Linked DNA regions of Homo sapiens: region 2 is linked to region 1. The links come from fine-mapping of genetic effects on gene expression. Tissue or cell type: whole blood. Region 1 holds a variant in brackets; the other region holds the start of a gene. All regions are shown on one strand. Distances are between the middles of the regions.

The links. PIP is the estimated chance that this variant, and not a neighbour inherited with it, causes the effect.
Region 2: it holds the start of FANCA, and the variant in region 1 is fine-mapped to the expression of FANCA in whole blood (TOPMed, PIP above 0.99).

What each region holds. Positions count from the first base shown.
Region 1 is chr16:89,734,251-89,742,350 of GRCh38, reverse strand. It overlaps ZNF276 (zinc finger protein 276), which reads right to left. Exons shown (of 11, transcript NM_001113525.2): 10 at 4,446-4,545; 11 at 1,426-4,375. The coding sequence ends at 4,105. FANCA (FA complementation group A) reads left to right here. Exons shown (of 43, transcript NM_000135.4): 38 at 1,485-1,547; 39 at 2,252-2,357; 40 at 2,798-2,873; 41 at 3,062-3,218; 42 at 3,377-3,469; 43 at 3,643-4,802. The coding sequence ends at 3,750. Among named protein-coding and RNA genes, the nearest start is that of ZNF276, 17 kb to the right of the region's middle. RefSeq lists a silencer at 513-713 and enhancers at 847-1,016, 1,132-1,301, 1,544-1,713. The variant G/A (reference allele first, on the strand shown) is at 4,736.
Region 2 is chr16:89,813,391-89,821,490 of GRCh38, reverse strand. It overlaps FANCA (FA complementation group A), which reads left to right and starts at 4,844. Exons shown (of 43, transcript NM_000135.4): 1 at 4,844-4,954; 2 at 5,505-5,614; 3 at 6,878-6,971. The coding sequence starts at 4,876. RefSeq lists enhancers at 4,181-4,230, 4,616-4,910 and silencers at 4,771-5,060, 5,291-5,340.

The DNA of each region.
Region 1 (8,100 bases):
GAGTAGCTCAGACTACAGGTGTGTGCCACCATGCCCGGCTAATTTTGTAATTTTTTCTGAGATGGGGGTCTGTAGTCCAGGCATGGTGGCTCATGCCTGTAATCCCAACACTTAGGGAGGCCGAGGCAGGCGGATCACTTGGTGTCAGGAGTTTGAGACCAGCTTGGGCAACATGGTGAAACCCTGTCTCTACTAAAAACACAAAAATTAGTCGGGTGTGGTGGTGCGCACCTACAATCCCATAGCCTGTAAAGCTACTCAGGAGGCTGAGGCAGGAGGATCACTTGAACCCAGGGGGCAGAGGCTGCAGTGAGCCAAGATCACGCCACTGCCCTGCAGTCTGGGTGACAGAGCGAGACTTGTCTCAAAAAAAAAAAATTTGTTTAAAGTAAAAATTAAAAGAGATGGGGGTCTCACTGTGTTGCCCAGGCTTGAAGTGCGTTTCTTCAGCTTATTTTTATCCTCATCACAGCCCAGCGTAAATGCTGTCAGCCTTCAAGTGGTGCCTTCTGTGTTCATGCTGCAGTAGCCTTGATTCATGTGCTGAGGGACAGCCCCAGATAAGCTTGCAGTGAGACAGCTCAGACCTGGGGTGCTGGGGACAAGAGGCAGCAAGGATGGGACCGTCTGCAGCCATAGGCATAGGGAAAGGAGTGGGAGAGGCTGCTCTTGAATTCCAGGCCAGGGACCATGTTCGACTCAGACCCACTGCCCACCTGGTTGCTGCACCCTGGAAAGCCTGACTGCCCCCACAAGACCAGTGACACCCACACAGCTCTCTGTGCAGGGAGCCAAGGGTGGTGTGTGCAGAACAGGAACAGAAACAAGCATCCCACAAGAGAGCTGGAGGCAGCAGCCCTCTGTGCCCAGCCCGAGATCCGCAACGCATAGGTGCCATGTCAGCACACAACTTACACCAGCTCAAAGCTGGATCGACAGCAGCGCCCAGGGTTTTGGTGATTATAACCACCCTGCAGGGGTTCTTCTGAGTACGTCTTCAGGTTTCTTGTGTAGTTTTGTTAGAAGGGATTTTAGTGGCTCCAGGGCCTTAGGACCCTAGTGTGCAGCGAGGAGTGTCCACAGAGACCCTGCCCAGTCAGGCCCTACTTTAGGCTGGAGCCTGTGGGCTTATCTTCAAGGATTTTACAAACACTTCTGACAGGAGGCCTTGCAGGGAGATGATGCTGAGTTGGGACTGCGCACAGCCAAGGAGACCGCAGCAGTCTTCTCTTTCTGGCTCTTGTCACTTTTTCAAACTGTTTCTAGCTTTGTTTAAAGGCAAGTGTGAAATGACCCAGCCAGTAGTAATTAATTCTCAATTAAGCTGTCTCTCTAGAAGTGATTGGAAAGTTTTCTAAGATCCACTTAAAGGATTTATGGCCTAGATGTAAAAAATTTCAATTAAAGAGGAATGTGTCAGCCTTATTTAGAATGACAGCACAGGTAATTTTAATGTAATAATAAGTGCACGTTTTTATTTACAGCTATTGGTTTTCCTTTTCTTCTTCTCCTTGATGGGCCTGCTGTCGTCACATCTGACCTCAAATGTAAGTCAGACCTTACCAGCCAAGGTGTCCTCTCCCACTGTGGGCCAGGCAGGGGCACCAGGCAGCCAGCTTCCAAGTCAGGGTTTCCAGACTAGCTCAGGAGCTCCTTGTGTTTGCGGAAGTGTGAGTGAGAACTCCCAGGCCGTGGGTTTTTTTTTTTTTTTTTTGAGATGGGGGTCTCACTCTGTCACCCAGGCTGGAGTGCAGTGGTGTGATCTCAGCTCACTGCAACCTCAGCCTCCTGGGTTCAAGCAATTCTCCTGCATCAGCCTCCCGAGTAGCTGGGATTACAGGCGTGAGTCTGTCACACCCGGCTAATTTTTGTATTTTTAGTAGAGACGGGGTTTCACCATATTGCCAGGCTGGTCTTGAACTGGCCTCAGTGATCCGCCGACCTCGGCCTCCCAAAGTGTTGGGATTACAGGCATGAGCCACTGCATCCGGCCTGTGGGCCTTTCTTTTAATGTCTTATTTGAGGACGTGGTGCAGCAGCCTTGGTGTGGGTGCTCGAAGTCCCTGGCCTCCTACCTGAGCCTCTTCTGTCCAGAGGCCCAGTATTACCTTCTATAGGTAAAACTGTCACCAGTTTTAAGACTTACAATAAGCAAAGAGGAAATGCCCTCTTCTGTGCTGAGGGCTGTACCCTCCTACCCATGGGAGCACCAGGTCGGCCATTCTCAGGGTTGGTCTCCTGCGGTTTACAGAGCACCACAGACCTGCCAAAGGCTTTCCACGTTTGTGCAGCAATCCTCGAGTGTTTAGAGAAGAGGAAGATATCCTGGCTGGCACTCTTTCAGTTGACAGAGAGTGGTAAGAAACACGCTGCTGAGGCACAAATGCGGAGGGCCGCTCTTTTCAGAGGCATCTTGCAAATGGTTAAGAACGAGCCCTCCTTGAGGTTCCTTGCTAAGTAAGTTTATAAGCTCCATTTTAGTTGGGACAGATTAAGCACAAACTTGTTTAAAGCAATAAGATAATTTACTGGCTCACTGGTCAACCCCAGGACCAATGGGCCTATCATGGGGACTGCCTCTCTCTGCACCACACCCACCCTCCTGCAAGAGGTCGACCCCCCCATCCTCTCCCAGCTGCTGACAGGTACCTGGGTATCCTCAGCTCAGGCTGTTCGCCCCACACTATCCCCACAGCCAGGCCTCCCAGGGTACACGTCCCGACCCCCAGGGGTGTCCCCAGCACTGATAATAGGCAGAGATGTCCAGAGTTGCCTGAGCCACTTCTTGGTGTTGCAGACCTCAGGCTGGGGCGGCTCCTCCTCCGTGTGGCCCCGGATCAGCACACCAGGCTGCTGCCTTTCGCTTTTTACAGGTACCTCCACCCACAGGGCTGGTCAGGGCTGGGCAGTGTTTCCCAGACCCCCATCTCAGCACCTCTGGGTCCCGCCAGATGGGAAGGGTTGTCTGTGCCTCTGCTCCACAGATGAGCAGTATCCCTTGGCATCACCTGCTACCTTTCCAGCAGTCTGTAGCCATTTGTCACTATGTCTTTACCTCTAGTCTTCTCTCCTACTTCCATGAAGACGCGGCCATCAGGGAAGAGGCCTTCCTGCATGTTGCTGTGGACATGTACTTGAAGCTGGTCCAGCTCTTCGTGGCTGGGGATACAAGCACAGTTTCACCTCCAGCTGGCAGGAGCCTGGAGCTCAAGGGTCAGGCAGGTGCAAGGGCCAGTCCCACCTCCAGGGGAGCTCCCCCCAGCCGGAGGCTCCTTCTGCCAAAGAATGTTCCGGCACAGCATGCAGACTATGGGGGACACACCAGCCCTGTTTCTGTATGTCTTCTAACCTGTGAGTTTGCCTGTTTTCTCTCTAGGGCAACCCCGTGGAACTGATAACAAAAGCTCGTCTTTTTCTGCTGCAGTTAATACCTCGGTGCCCGAAAAAGAGCTTCTCACACGTGGCAGAGGTAACGTCAAGATGCCCACCTTGGGCCATGTGGGGGACATGAGAATTGACAGCTGCCTGGGCCATGTGCCTGCCTGGCTGGCAATACAACTCGACTATTTCTGCCAGAGCCCCTCCCCTGTGGTCTGAGGCCTAGTGGGCGGCATGGGCTGAGGACCTGCTCCTCTCTCACAGCTGCTGGCTGATCGTGGGGACTGCGACCCAGAGGTGAGCGCCGCCCTCCAGAGCAGACAGCAGGCTGCCCCTGACGCTGACCTGTCCCAGGAGCCTCATCTCTTCTGACGGGACCTGCCACTGCACACCAGCCCAGCTCCCGTGTAAATAATTTATTACAAGCATAACATGGAGCTCTTGTTGCACTAAAAAGTGGATTACAAATCTCCTCGACTGCTTTAGTGGGGAAAGGAATCAATTATTTATGAACTGTCCGGCCCCGAGTCACTCAGCGTTTGCGGGAAAATAAACCACTGGTCCCAGAGCAGAGGAAGGCTACTTGAGCCGGACACCAAGCCCGCCTCCAGCACCAAGGGCGGGCAGCACCCTCCGACCCTCCCATGCGGGTGCACACGAAGGGTGAGGCTGACACAGCCACTGCGGAGTCCAGGCTGCTAGAGGTGCTCATCCTCACTGCCGTCCTCAGGTGGGTTCGGGCTTCACCGCCTGGCCCTCTGTGGTCACAGAGGGGCTCGGTGGCCCAGGTGGTGGTTCCGCCTCCAGGGGCAGGGCCTTGTCCTGGGTCTGTGTCAGCGGGTGCACCATGGACATGTGTACATTGAGGTTGTGGGCCTTCTCAAACCGCCGGCCACACTGGTCACAGGCAAAGTCCAGCTCAGTCTCAGCCTTGTGTTTGGTCATGTGGTACTTGAGGGATGCCCGCTGCCTGCACTGGAACCCACAGACCTCACACCTGGGGGACAGAGGCAGATAAGAAGGTGCGAGGGCCACAGCCCTGGGAGGGGGTCCTGACTCACACTTACTGCAAAGGCTTGGCTCCCGAATGTCGCATTTGGTGGACGAGAAGGTGCTTCCGCTGCTTGAAGGTTTGTCCACATTCGTCACAGATATAGTTCCGCACCTCTGAGAGGGGAGAGTCCAGTGAGTCCAGGCCCCTGATGCTCCAACCTCCCGGGGGGACGACGATGACAATGTGAAACCATCACAGCTGGGAAGACATTTCTGCACATGGTTCACCATGCAGTGGGCCCAAGCAAGGGGCCTATGAGGGCCTCGTTTATTAAGATCTTTAAACTGCTTTATACACTGTCAC[G/A]TGGCTTCATCAGCTGTGTGCATTTCAGGATGGTTTTTAAAGAAACCTCAGAAAGCTATTTCCTTAACCACAGATTCTTGTCTTTTTTTTTTTTTGAGATGGAGTTTCGCTCTGTTACCCAGGCTGCAGTGCGGTGGCGTGATCTCAGCTCACTGCAACCTGCGCCTCCCAGGCTCAAGCGATTCTTGTGCCTCAGCCTGCCAAGTAGCTGGGATTACAGGCGCCCCCCACCACGCCCAGCTGATTTTTGTATTTTTAGTAGAGACAGGGTTTACACCATATTGGCCAGGCTGGTCTTGAATTCCTGACCTTGTGATCTGCCTGCCTCGGTCTCCCAAAGTGCTGGGATTACATGTGTGAGCCACCGTGCCTGGCCTACAAATTCTTAAAGGAAGCCGTATCACTAAGGTTGTATAGAATACTGATTGTCACAGCTATGGCTGTTCTCTAGAATTCATCTCCATATGAGAGGGGTCCATACCCAGGGTCTGGGGGTATGCATTGCTGTACTGGCTCTGGAAATCTTTCTCACACCCTTGAACAAAGAGATCTCACTTGCTAGTCCACAAATGCCACATGTGGACATGCAGACCCACTCACCCTGTGCTGCCTCCACATCTGTCAAGCCCTGAAACGCTTCACAAGACAGACTTTTCTCTTCGAAGGGAAACCCTATCTTGGCATTTTACTCTACGCTGTTCTTTTTTTTTGAGACTTGAGTCTTGCTCTGTTGCCCAGGCTGGAGTGCAACAGCCCAATCTCAGCTCACTGGAAACTCCACCTCCCAGGTTCAAGGGATTCTTTTTTTTTTTTTTTTTTTGGAGACAGGGTCTTGCTCTGTTGCCCAGGTTGAAGTGCAATGGTACAATCATGGCTCACTATAGCCTGGAACTCCCAGGCTTAAGTGATCCTCCTGCCTCAACCTCTCAAGTAGCTGGGACCACAGGTGTGCACCACCACACCCAGGTAATTTAAAAAATTTGGGGGGCCGGTGCAGTGGCTTACACAAAGTGCTCAATCCCAGCACTTTGGAAGGCCAAGGCAGGCGGATCATGAAGTCAGTTCAAGACCAGCCCCAGCCCAATCAATATGGTAAAACCCTGTCTCTACTAAAAATACAAAAATTAGCCAGGTGTGGTGGCACACACCTGTAGTCCCAGCTACTCGGGAGGCTGAGGCAGCAGAATTGCATGAACCCAGGAGGTGGAGGTTGCAGTGAGCTGAGATTGCACAGCTGCACTCCAGGCTGGGCGACACAGACTGTCCCGGAAAAAAAAAAAAAAATTGGGGGCTGGGCACGGTGGCTCATGCCTGTAATCCCAGCACTTTGGGAGGCCAAGGCAGGCAAATCACCTGAGGTCAGGAACTCGAGACCAGCCTGGCCAACATAGCAAAACCTGCCTCTCTACTAAAAATAGAAAAATTACCCAGGCGTCATGGCTCACGCTTATAATCCCAGCACTTCGGGAGGCCGAGGCAGGTGGATCACAAGGTCAGGAGATTGAGACCAGCCTCACTAACGTGGTGAAACCCCGTCTGTACTGAAAATACGAAAAATTAGTTGGGTGTGGTGGCCAGCACCTGTAGTCCCAGCTATTTGGGAGGCTGAGGCAGGAGAATGGCTTTACCCCAGGAAGAGGAGCTTGCAGTGAGCTGAGATTGTGCCACTGCACCCCAGCCTGGGCGACAAGAGCAAGACTCAGTCAAAAAAACAAACAAACAAACAAAAAAAAACACCCCCGGCGTGGTGGCAGATGCCTGTAATCCCAGCTACTCAGGAGGCTGAGACAGGAGAATTGCTTGAACTAGGGAGGTGGAGGTTACAGTGAGCCAAGATCGCGCCACTGCACTCCAGCCATGGTGATAAGAGTGAGACTGTTTCCATCAATAAATTAAAAAAAAAGTTTTTGGTAAAGACGGCCTCACTATGTTGCCCAGGCTGGTGTCAAAATCCTGGCCTCAAGCAATCCTACTGCCTTAGCCTCCAAAGTGCTGCGATTACAGGCATGAGCCACTGCACCCGGCCCAATTTCAGGTTTTTAAGGAACTGCTGGTTGTGACCATCAGTGACCGGACAGATGCAGAGTCTGAAGGACCAAACCCAAGGAAGTGCTGCCATCAGGAGAGATGTCGGAGAACCCAAAAAATAACAACCCGCATGTCGGGAGATGACCCAGCAGTGAAAAGCAATCCTAATGAAAAAATACTTCAGTAAATTCAAGTAAGAATAAATAATTCTTATTCTGTAATAAGTTCAAAACCAAGGAAAACTGTGTGTGTAAGGATCAATATACAGTTGTCCTCAGCTGGTTCCAGGCCCCCCCCCACCCCTTACCAAAATCTGCTCATACTGAAGTCCCGAAGTTAGCCCTGCAAAGACCCTACAGAACCTGCACTTAGGAAAAGGCAGCCCTCTGAATACCAGGGATTCGAGTCCCTGACCATGGATATGTGGGTCCACGTGGTTCAAACAAGTTTTTTTTTTGAGACAGTGTCTCACTGTTGCCCAGGCTGGAGTGCAGTGGTGTGATCTCGGCTCACTGCAACCTCCACCTCCGCCTCCCAAGTAGCTGTGCCTACAGGCGTGTGCCACCACACCCAGATAATTTTTGTATTTTTAGTAGAGACCAGGTTTTACCATGTTGGCCAGGCTGGTCTTGAACTGCTGACCTCAGGTGATCCACCCACCTCAGCCTCCCAAAGTGCTGGGATTACAGGTGTGAGCCACCACGCCCGGCCAAGTTTGTCATTTTGAAAACATATCCTTGTTGGATTATAAAAGTAACTTGTGCATTATAGAAATTGTGAAAAATAAGACGGGCACAGAGACAGCACCCTCAGTCATAATTCCCCCATCCGCCTCCGGTCTTAATGACACGACCTACACACATGTGAAAAGGCAGAACCACACGTGCCTCCCGCCTGTCCACGTGGGCAGCTCCCCAGAGCTGGTGTGCCTTCATGCCTTCTGCCTTGCCTTTTAAGATACACTTGTTTGGGCCAGGTGCAGTGCTCACACCTGTAATCTCTGCACTTTGGAAGGCTGAGATCACTTGAGGTCAGGAGTTAGAGATCACCCTGGCCAACATGGTGAAACCCCGTCTCTACCAAAAATTACAAAAATTAGCCAGGCATGGTTGCGGGTGCCTGTAATCCCAGCTACTTGGGAGGCTGAGGCGGGAGAATTGATTGAACCTGGGAGGCAGAGGTTGTGGTGAGCCAAGATGGTGCCACTGCACTCCAGCCTGGGCAACAGAGCAGGACTCCGTCTCAAAAAAAAATTAAAAAATAAAATGACCAATTTGCAAAAGGACACCAAGATTGCTTGGCTATTAGTTTTGACAAACTGCCTAGATCCTGGGGAA
Region 2 (8,100 bases), 79 kb before region 1:
CTCAAAAAAAAAAAAGGCCAGGCGCGGTGGCGCACGCCTGTAATCCCAGCACTTTGGGAGGCCGAGGCGGGCGGATCACCTGAGGTCAGGAGTTTGAGACCAGCCTGGCCAACATGGCAAAACCCTGTCTCTACTAAAAATACAAAAATTAGACAGGCGTGGTGGCAGGCACCTGTAATCCCAGCTACTCGGGAGGCTGAGGCGGGAGAATCGCTTGAACCTGGAAGGCAGTGGTTGCAGTGAGCCAAGATCATGCCACTGCAGTCCAGCCTGGGCAACAGAGTGAGACTCCATCTTAAAAAAAAAAAAAAAAAAGAATGCAGAAGTTCCTCACAACTCATGGGCATAATTCTCCCCACACTGCTCAGTGACAAGGCAGAGGCAGAACAGGCCATTATAAAAGATGTGCCAGATCAAAGGACAGATGAACTTTTCTTTTCTTTTCTTTTCTTTTCGAGAGGGAGTTTTGCTCTTGTCGCCCAGGCTGGAGTGCAGTGTCATGATCTCAGTTCACTGCAAGGTTTGCCTCCCAGGCTGAAGCGATTCTCCTGTCTCAGCCTCCCCAGAAGCTGGGATTACAGGTGCCCACCACCACAGCCGGCTCATTTTTTGTATTTTTAGTAGAGACCAGGTTTCTCCATGTTGGGGACGCTGGTCTCAAACTCCTGACTTCAGGTAATCTGCCCACCTCGGCCTCCCAAAGTGCTGGGATTACAGGCGCGCGCCACCATACGCTTTTTTTTTTTTTTTTGAGACAGAGTCTCAATCTGTCGCCCAGGCTGTAGTTGGCATGATCTCGGCTCACTGCAACCTACATCTCCTGGGTTCAAGTGATTCTCCAGCCTCAGCCTCCCAAGTAGCTGCGATTACAGGCACTGGTCACCACGCCCGGCTAATTTTGTATTTTTAGTAGAGATGTGGTTTCACCATGTTGGCCAGGCCAAATTCGAACTCCTGACCTCAGGTGATCTACCCACCTCAGCCTCCCAAAGCGCTGGGATTACAGTCATGAGCCACCCCACTTGTCCTAGACAGAAAATTATCTTTTTTTTGAGACGGAGTGTCGCTCTGTCACCCAGGCTGGAGTGCAGTGGCACGATCTCAGCTCACTGCAAGCTCCGCCTCCTGGGTTCAAGCAAATCTCCCGCCTCAGCCTCCTGAGTAGCTGGAATTACATGCACCTGCCACCACACCCGGCTAATTTTTGTAGTTTTGGTAGAGATGGGGTTTCACCATGTTGTCCAAGCTGGTCTCGAACTCCTGCTCTCAGGTGACCCGCCTGCCTCAGCCTCCCAAAGTGCTGGGATTACAGGCGTGAGCCACTGCGCCGGGCCAAGACAAGAGTTTTGCTCTAGTTGCCCAGGCTGGAGTGCAGTGGCGCAATCTTGGTTTACTGCAACCTTCGCCTCCTGGGTTCAGGCGATTCTCCTGCCTCAGCCTCCCGAGTAGCTGGGATTACAGGCATGCACCACCACACCTGGCTGATTTTGTATTTTTAGTAGAGACGGGGTTTCTCCATGTTCGTCAGGCTGGTCTTGAACTCCTGACCTCAGGTGATCTGCCTGCCTTGGCCTCCCAAAGTGCTGGGATTACAGGCATGAGCCACCACACCTGGCCAATTTTTGTGTTTTTAGTAGAGATGAGATTTCACCATGTTGGCCAGGCTAGTCTCAAACTCCTGACCTCAGGTGATCCACCGGCCTCGGCCCCCCAAAATGCTGGGATTACAAGTGTGAGACACCGTGCCCAGCACCCCTGCCTTTTTTTTTTTTTTGAGACAGGGTGTCACTCTGTCATCCAGGCTGGAGTGCAGTGGCGTGATGGTGGCTCCCTGCAGCCTCAGCCTCCTGGGCTCAAGTGATCCTCTCACCTCAGCCTCCCAAGTAGCTGGGACTATGTAGGGTCCAGCCCTATGGGGCTTAGTGGGTGTTCTCCCCATGTACGGAGAAGAGAGATTGTAATAAATAAAGACACAAGACCAAGAAATAAAGAGAAAACAGCTGGGCCCCGGGGACCACTACCATCAAGACGCGGAGACTGGTAGCGGCCCCGAACGGCTAGGCTCTTTGATATCTATTGCATACATGACAAGGGGGCAGCGTAAGGAAGGTGAATCTTCTAAGTGATTGACAAGGTGAAGCATGTCACGTGATTACAGGATGGGGGCCCTTCCCTTTCAGGTAGGTGAAGCAGAGAAAGAAGGCAGCATACGTCAGCATTTTCTTCTCTGCACTTATAAGAAAGATCAAAGACTTTAAGACTTTCACTATTTCTTCTACCGCTATCTACTACGAACTTCAAAGACGAACCAGAAGTAAGGGAGGAACATGAAAGTGGACAAGGAGCGTGACCAGTGAAGCACCACAGGGAGGGGTTTAGGCCTCCGGATGACTGCGTGCAGGCCTGGATAACATCCAGCCTCCCACAAGAAGCTGGTGGAGCAGAGTGTTCCCTGACTCCTCCAAGCAAAGGAGACTCCCTTTCATGGTCTGCTAAGTAACGGGTGCCTTCCCAGACACTGGCGTTACCGCTTGACCAAGGAGCCCTCAAGCGGCCCTTATGCGGGCATGACAGAAGGTTCACCTCTTGCCTTCCACTCACTTCTCACAATGTCCTTTCAGCACCTGACCCTATACCCACCGGTTATTCCTAGGTTATATTAGTAATGCAACAAACAGTAATATTAAAAGCTAATGATTAATGTTTATAATAATTGATAATTGTCCATGATCATCTCCATAATTTGTATTATGACTGTTCTTATTGTAACGATTTTATTATACTGAAATAGTTTGTGCCTTCGGTCTCTTGCCTCGGCACCTGGGTAATTCTCCGCCCACAGGACTACAGGCTCGTGTCACCACACTGGGCAATACAAAAAATACAAAAAAAAAATTTTGTATTTTTTGTAGAGACGAGGTCTTGCCATATTGCCCAGGCTGGAATTCTTACCTTTGTTACTGTATTTAACGTATCTTTTTCCTCCGGCCATCTTCATGGTTTTCTCTCTGATTTCCACAGTTTGAATACACTGCATGTGTCAGGCAGGGGCTCATATTTATCAAGTTTTGTGTGTGCTCTGAGCTCAGGTCTTTCATTATTTTGGGAAAATTATTGGTAATTTTCTCTTCAAACATTTTTTATGATTTGTTCTTTCTTCTTCTTTTGGGAGTCCTATTACATGCATATGATATCATTTGATATTTTCCCACAGTTCTTGGATGCTTTTTTTAAAAAAAAACTTTTTTTCTTCTTTATTTTCCAACGTGGGTAATTCCTATTTTTCTCAGCTGTGTTGATCCTACTGCTGCCCCATCAGAAAAATTACCTGTTATCAGCGTTCTTCCTTTCTTATAATTTGATGAGTTTCCTCCTCATGCATATTGTTCACCTTTCGTACAAGAGACCTCCACATATTAATCACAGTTAATTTAAATTTCCAGCCTGTTTCAATTTCTCGATCACCTCTGAGTCTAGTCCTGTTAATTGCTTAGTGTTATTTTTTGTTTTTGAAACAGGGTCTTGCTCTGTTGCCCAGGCTGGAGTGCAGCGGCGCGATCTCAGGCTGTTCCCTGAGTTCACACCATCCCCCTCAACCAGCAGATTGCAAAGTGTCCGAGTCGGGCCGTGCAGGAGTCTTTGTGGGGGTTTCATGGACTCCGAATTCTCATTTCTGCTCCATCCCCATCTCATGAATCCAAGGCCCCACTCTGTGCCTCGGCTCTTCGTTTGTGGTGCTGAACGTCATCTACGTCATCTACGCCATCTACGTAATCAACACAATAAAGACGCCTGCCGGGAACGCGGCCCTTCGGCTGAATCCCTTCGGTGGTTCCAAGGCCACTGCCAGAGGATGCGGACGGGTCTCCAGGGCCTCTACTTACCCAGGACTTTGAGGCACATTAGCTTCGCCTAGGCACTCGCTTTTACGAATTCTTATGTTTGGTTTTGTTTTGAGACAGAGTCTCGCTCTGCCGCCCAGGCTGGTTAAAAGATAGGGTCTCAGCCGGGTGCGGTGGCTCACGCCTGTAATCCCAGCACTTTGGGAGGCCGAGGCGGGCGGATCACCTGAGGTCCGGAGTTCGAGACTAGCCTGGGCCAACATGGCGAAACGCTGTCTCTACTAAAAATAACAAAAATCATCCAGGCGTGGTGGCGCGCACCTGCAATCCCAGCTACTCGGGAGGCTGAGGCAGGAGAATCACCTGAACCCAGGAGGCAGACGTTGCAGTGAGCCGAGATCGCGCCACTGCACTCCAGCCTGGGCGACAGAGGGAGACTCCGTCTCAAAAAAAGGAAAAAAAAAAAAAAGAAAAGAAACAAAAGTGATGGGGTCTCGCTCTGTTGCCCAGGCTAGTCTGGAATTCCTGGGCTCAAGCGACCCTCCAGCCTCGGCCTCCCAAAGCGCTGGGAATACAGGCGCGGCTACCGCGCGGTCTCCGGCTGCCGAAACACCGCCCTGCGCGCGGACCGTTCGGCCGCCGGGAGGAACAGCGGCTGCCCGGAGCTCAGAGGCGCGCGCGGCTTTGCGCTCCCCGCGGCGCTCTGAGCCTGCCTCGGCTTGGTTGGCCAGGTGGTCTCTTCAGGACCAACCCCAGTCATTCCCGGCAGGAACCACGCTTGAGGGGCGGCAGTCTGCCCGCGCGAGACGCCCCCGCGGACTACACCGCGGCGGCAAAGCCAAACGCAAAAACTACCTCACCGCGCGCAGGCGCCTCCCCCAGGACCAACATGGCCACGACGCAAGGCCTCGACCTGAGGGGCGTGGCCTGGCCGCCGCCAGCCAACGGGTGTGCGCGCCTGGCCGCAGCCAATAGGAAGGCAGCGCGGGCTCGGGCGCAGGGAGCCGCCGCCGGGGCTGTAGGCGCCAAGGCCATGTCCGACTCGTGGGTCCCGAACTCCGCCTCGGGCCAGGACCCAGGGGGCCGCCGGAGGGCCTGGGCCGAGCTGCTGGGTAGGTGGGCGCGGCAGGCCGCGGGAGTGGGCGGCGTCCGGCCCGGGACGGTTTCGCCGGTTCCCCGATCCCTTCCCGCCAGAGCCTCCGCCGGTCGGATCCCCGGACGCCGCGCCCGGGGGGCTGTGCGGGGTGGGCGCCCGGCTGGGGCGGCGCGGCTGCCTCGGACCCGGCCCCTCCTGCGCCTGGGCGGACGCCCCCAGCCGCCGCCCGCGGGGCGCTCCCTTCTTTCCCGAACGCCGCCCCCGCCGGCCGCCCTGTCAGGCGGGCCTGGGGTGCGCGGCCTGGGGCTCCCCTCAGCGCAGAGGCCGCCCCTCGCCAGCCGTCCCCGGGCTCCCCTGCCTCGGGCCCTCCTGGGCCGTCTTCCCCGGCGTCCGCGGTGGGGCCGTCTCCGTTAGTTTCCCGAGACCTGCGCCCTGGGGAGGAGCCCCGGCCCCTCTTCGGGAGGGTGTCGCTGGTGGGTTTCTCCGCGGCGTCCACCTGCGCGTCGGGCCGGGGACCCCGTGTGTGAATTGTGCTGTGATGGTTTCGAACCGACTTCTCTCCGTAGCGGGAAGGGTCAAGAGGGAAAAATATAATCCTGAAAGGGCACAGAAATTAAAGGAATCAGCTGTGCGCCTCCTGCGAAGCCATCAGGACCTGAATGCCCTTTTGCTTGAGGTAAGAGGAAGCTGGTGTCCGTCTGCGGGCAGATTTAGGTTCGGGGTTTTTGAGTCCAGCCACCGCACAGCTTTCCTAAGAAAACACCCGAGGCGGCGGGCGCGGTGGCCTGGCCCGCAGAGGGGAGGGTCGCCTGAGCCCGGGAGTTCTGGACCAACCTGGGCAACGGGGTGAGACCCCGCCTCTTTTATTAAAAACAAAACAACAACAACAAAAAAACAGGCCGGGCGCCGTGGCTCAGGGCTGTAATCCCAGCTTTTGGGGAGGCCAAGGCGGGTGGATCACTCAGGGTCAGGAGTTCGAGACCAGCCTGGCCAACATAGTGAAACCCGGTCTCTACTGAAAATACAAAAATTAGCTGGGTGTGGTGGCGCACGCCTTTAATCCCAGCTACTCGGGAGCCTGAGGCAGGAGAATTGCTTGAACCTGGACCCGGGAGGCAGAAATTGCAGTGAGCCGAGATCACGCCCCTTGCAATCCAGTCTGGATTACAGAGTGAGACTGTCTCACAAAAAAAAAAAAAAAAAAAAAAAAAAAAAAAGCCGGGCGTGGTGGCTCACGCCTGTAATCCTAGCCCTTTGGGAGGCCGAAGTGGGTAGATCACTTGAGGTTAGGAGTTCGAGACCAGCCTGACCAACATGGTGAAACCCCGTCACTACTTAAAATACAAAAATTAGCCGGGTATGGTAGCAGGTGTCTGTAATCCCAGCTGCTCAGGAGGCTGAGGCAGGAGAATCGCTTGAACCTGGGAGGTGGAGGTCGCCGTGAGTGAGATCCCGCCATTGCACTCCAGCCTGGACGACAGTGAGACTCCCTCTCAAAAAAGAAAAAAAGGAAAATAGCCCAGTAGGGAAGCATTACTTACACACAGGTTGTGTTTATGCACAGATCTTGAATTTTTTTTATTTTTATTTTTTATTTTCATTTATTTTTTTTGAGACAAAGTCTCACACTGTAGCCTGGGCTGGTATGCAGTGGGGTGATCTCGGCTCACTGCAGCCTCCACCTCCCGGGTTTAAGTGATTCTCCCGTCTCAGCCTCCCGAGTGGCTGGGACTACAGGCACGCGCCACCATGCCCTCCTAATTTTTGTATTTTTAGTAGAGACAGGGTTTCACTATGTTGGCCAGGCTGGTCTCGAACTCTTGACCTCGTGATCTGCCCATCTCGGCCTCCCAAAGTACTGGGATTACAGGCGTGAGCCACTACGCCTGGCCTGGAGCTTGAATTTTTTAAATGGAGTTTGTTGTGTTTTGGATTCTAGGTAGAAGGTCCACTGTGTAAAAAATTGTCTCTCAGCAAAGTGATTGACTGTGACAGTTCTGAGGCCTATGCTAATCATTCTAGTTCATTTATAGGTAAGTTATAGCTTCATTTTCTCTATTTTGAATTGCAGAAGGGTTTTTATATAGTAACCATAGTTTGCTAAATTAAGTAGAAATGTAAATTTTCTCAGGCGATGGGTTTCCACTGGTGTGTGTAGTCGCAAATTCTATGGGATGTTTGTGTGACTTGCTCTTGGGCTTCTTACGATGCTGTGTTTAAAAACAGCGTCTGATTCAACCTGCGACTCAGAAGCAGTAGGACCCAGAGTGTCCCTTGGAAAAACATGGGACATAGCAACAGCAGGGATGTGCCCCTTGCTCATGGAAGTAGTGAGACAGGCTGTGGTGTGCCCAGGAGAGCAGACGGGAGAACAATTTTCTAGGTACCTCCTTCTCCCCCCAGTTTGAGAGTGGGAGATAGGGTAAGTTCTGGGTCAACAACAGTAAGTTATTTTCTGATCCTTCACGTCCTTATGTGATGACTTGTTTCTGTTAAAATAACCTTCAGTAATAGCGCTCCCTTGACAACTGGTCACTGAATGTCATTGGCAAATGATACAGATTTTCACTGCCATGATTGTATTTGAATTTCACAAATTGCATATTATCATTCCAAGGAACCAAGCTCAGCCACACAGATAAACCTTTAATTCATTAATTTTTGAGTTTGTTTTTTTCTGCTAAAGATATAGTTAGTACATGCACGCACGTGCACACGGACACACACACACACACACACACACACAGTAAAAGACTTGTAGATAAAAAAACTTTCCTATGGAGACACATTGGAAACAAATGACTAGAAATTGGCATTGTTGGCCTGGCACAGTGGCTCACGCCTATAATCGCAGCACTTTGGGAGGCTGAGGTGTGCGGATCACCTGAGGTCAGGATTCGAGACGAGCCTGGCCAACATGGTGAAACCCTGTCTCTACTAAAAAACACAAAAATTAGCCGGGTGTGGTGGTGGGTGCCTGTAGTCCCAGCTATTCAGGAGGCTGAGGCAGGAGAATTGCTTGAACGTGGGAGGCAGAGGTTGCATTGAGCCGAGACCCCTCCATTGCACTCCAGCCTGGGCAATAAGAGCAAAACTCTGTCTCAGAACAGAAAATGGCATTGTCTACTTTTTTTTTTTTTTTTAACAGACAGGGTCTCACTC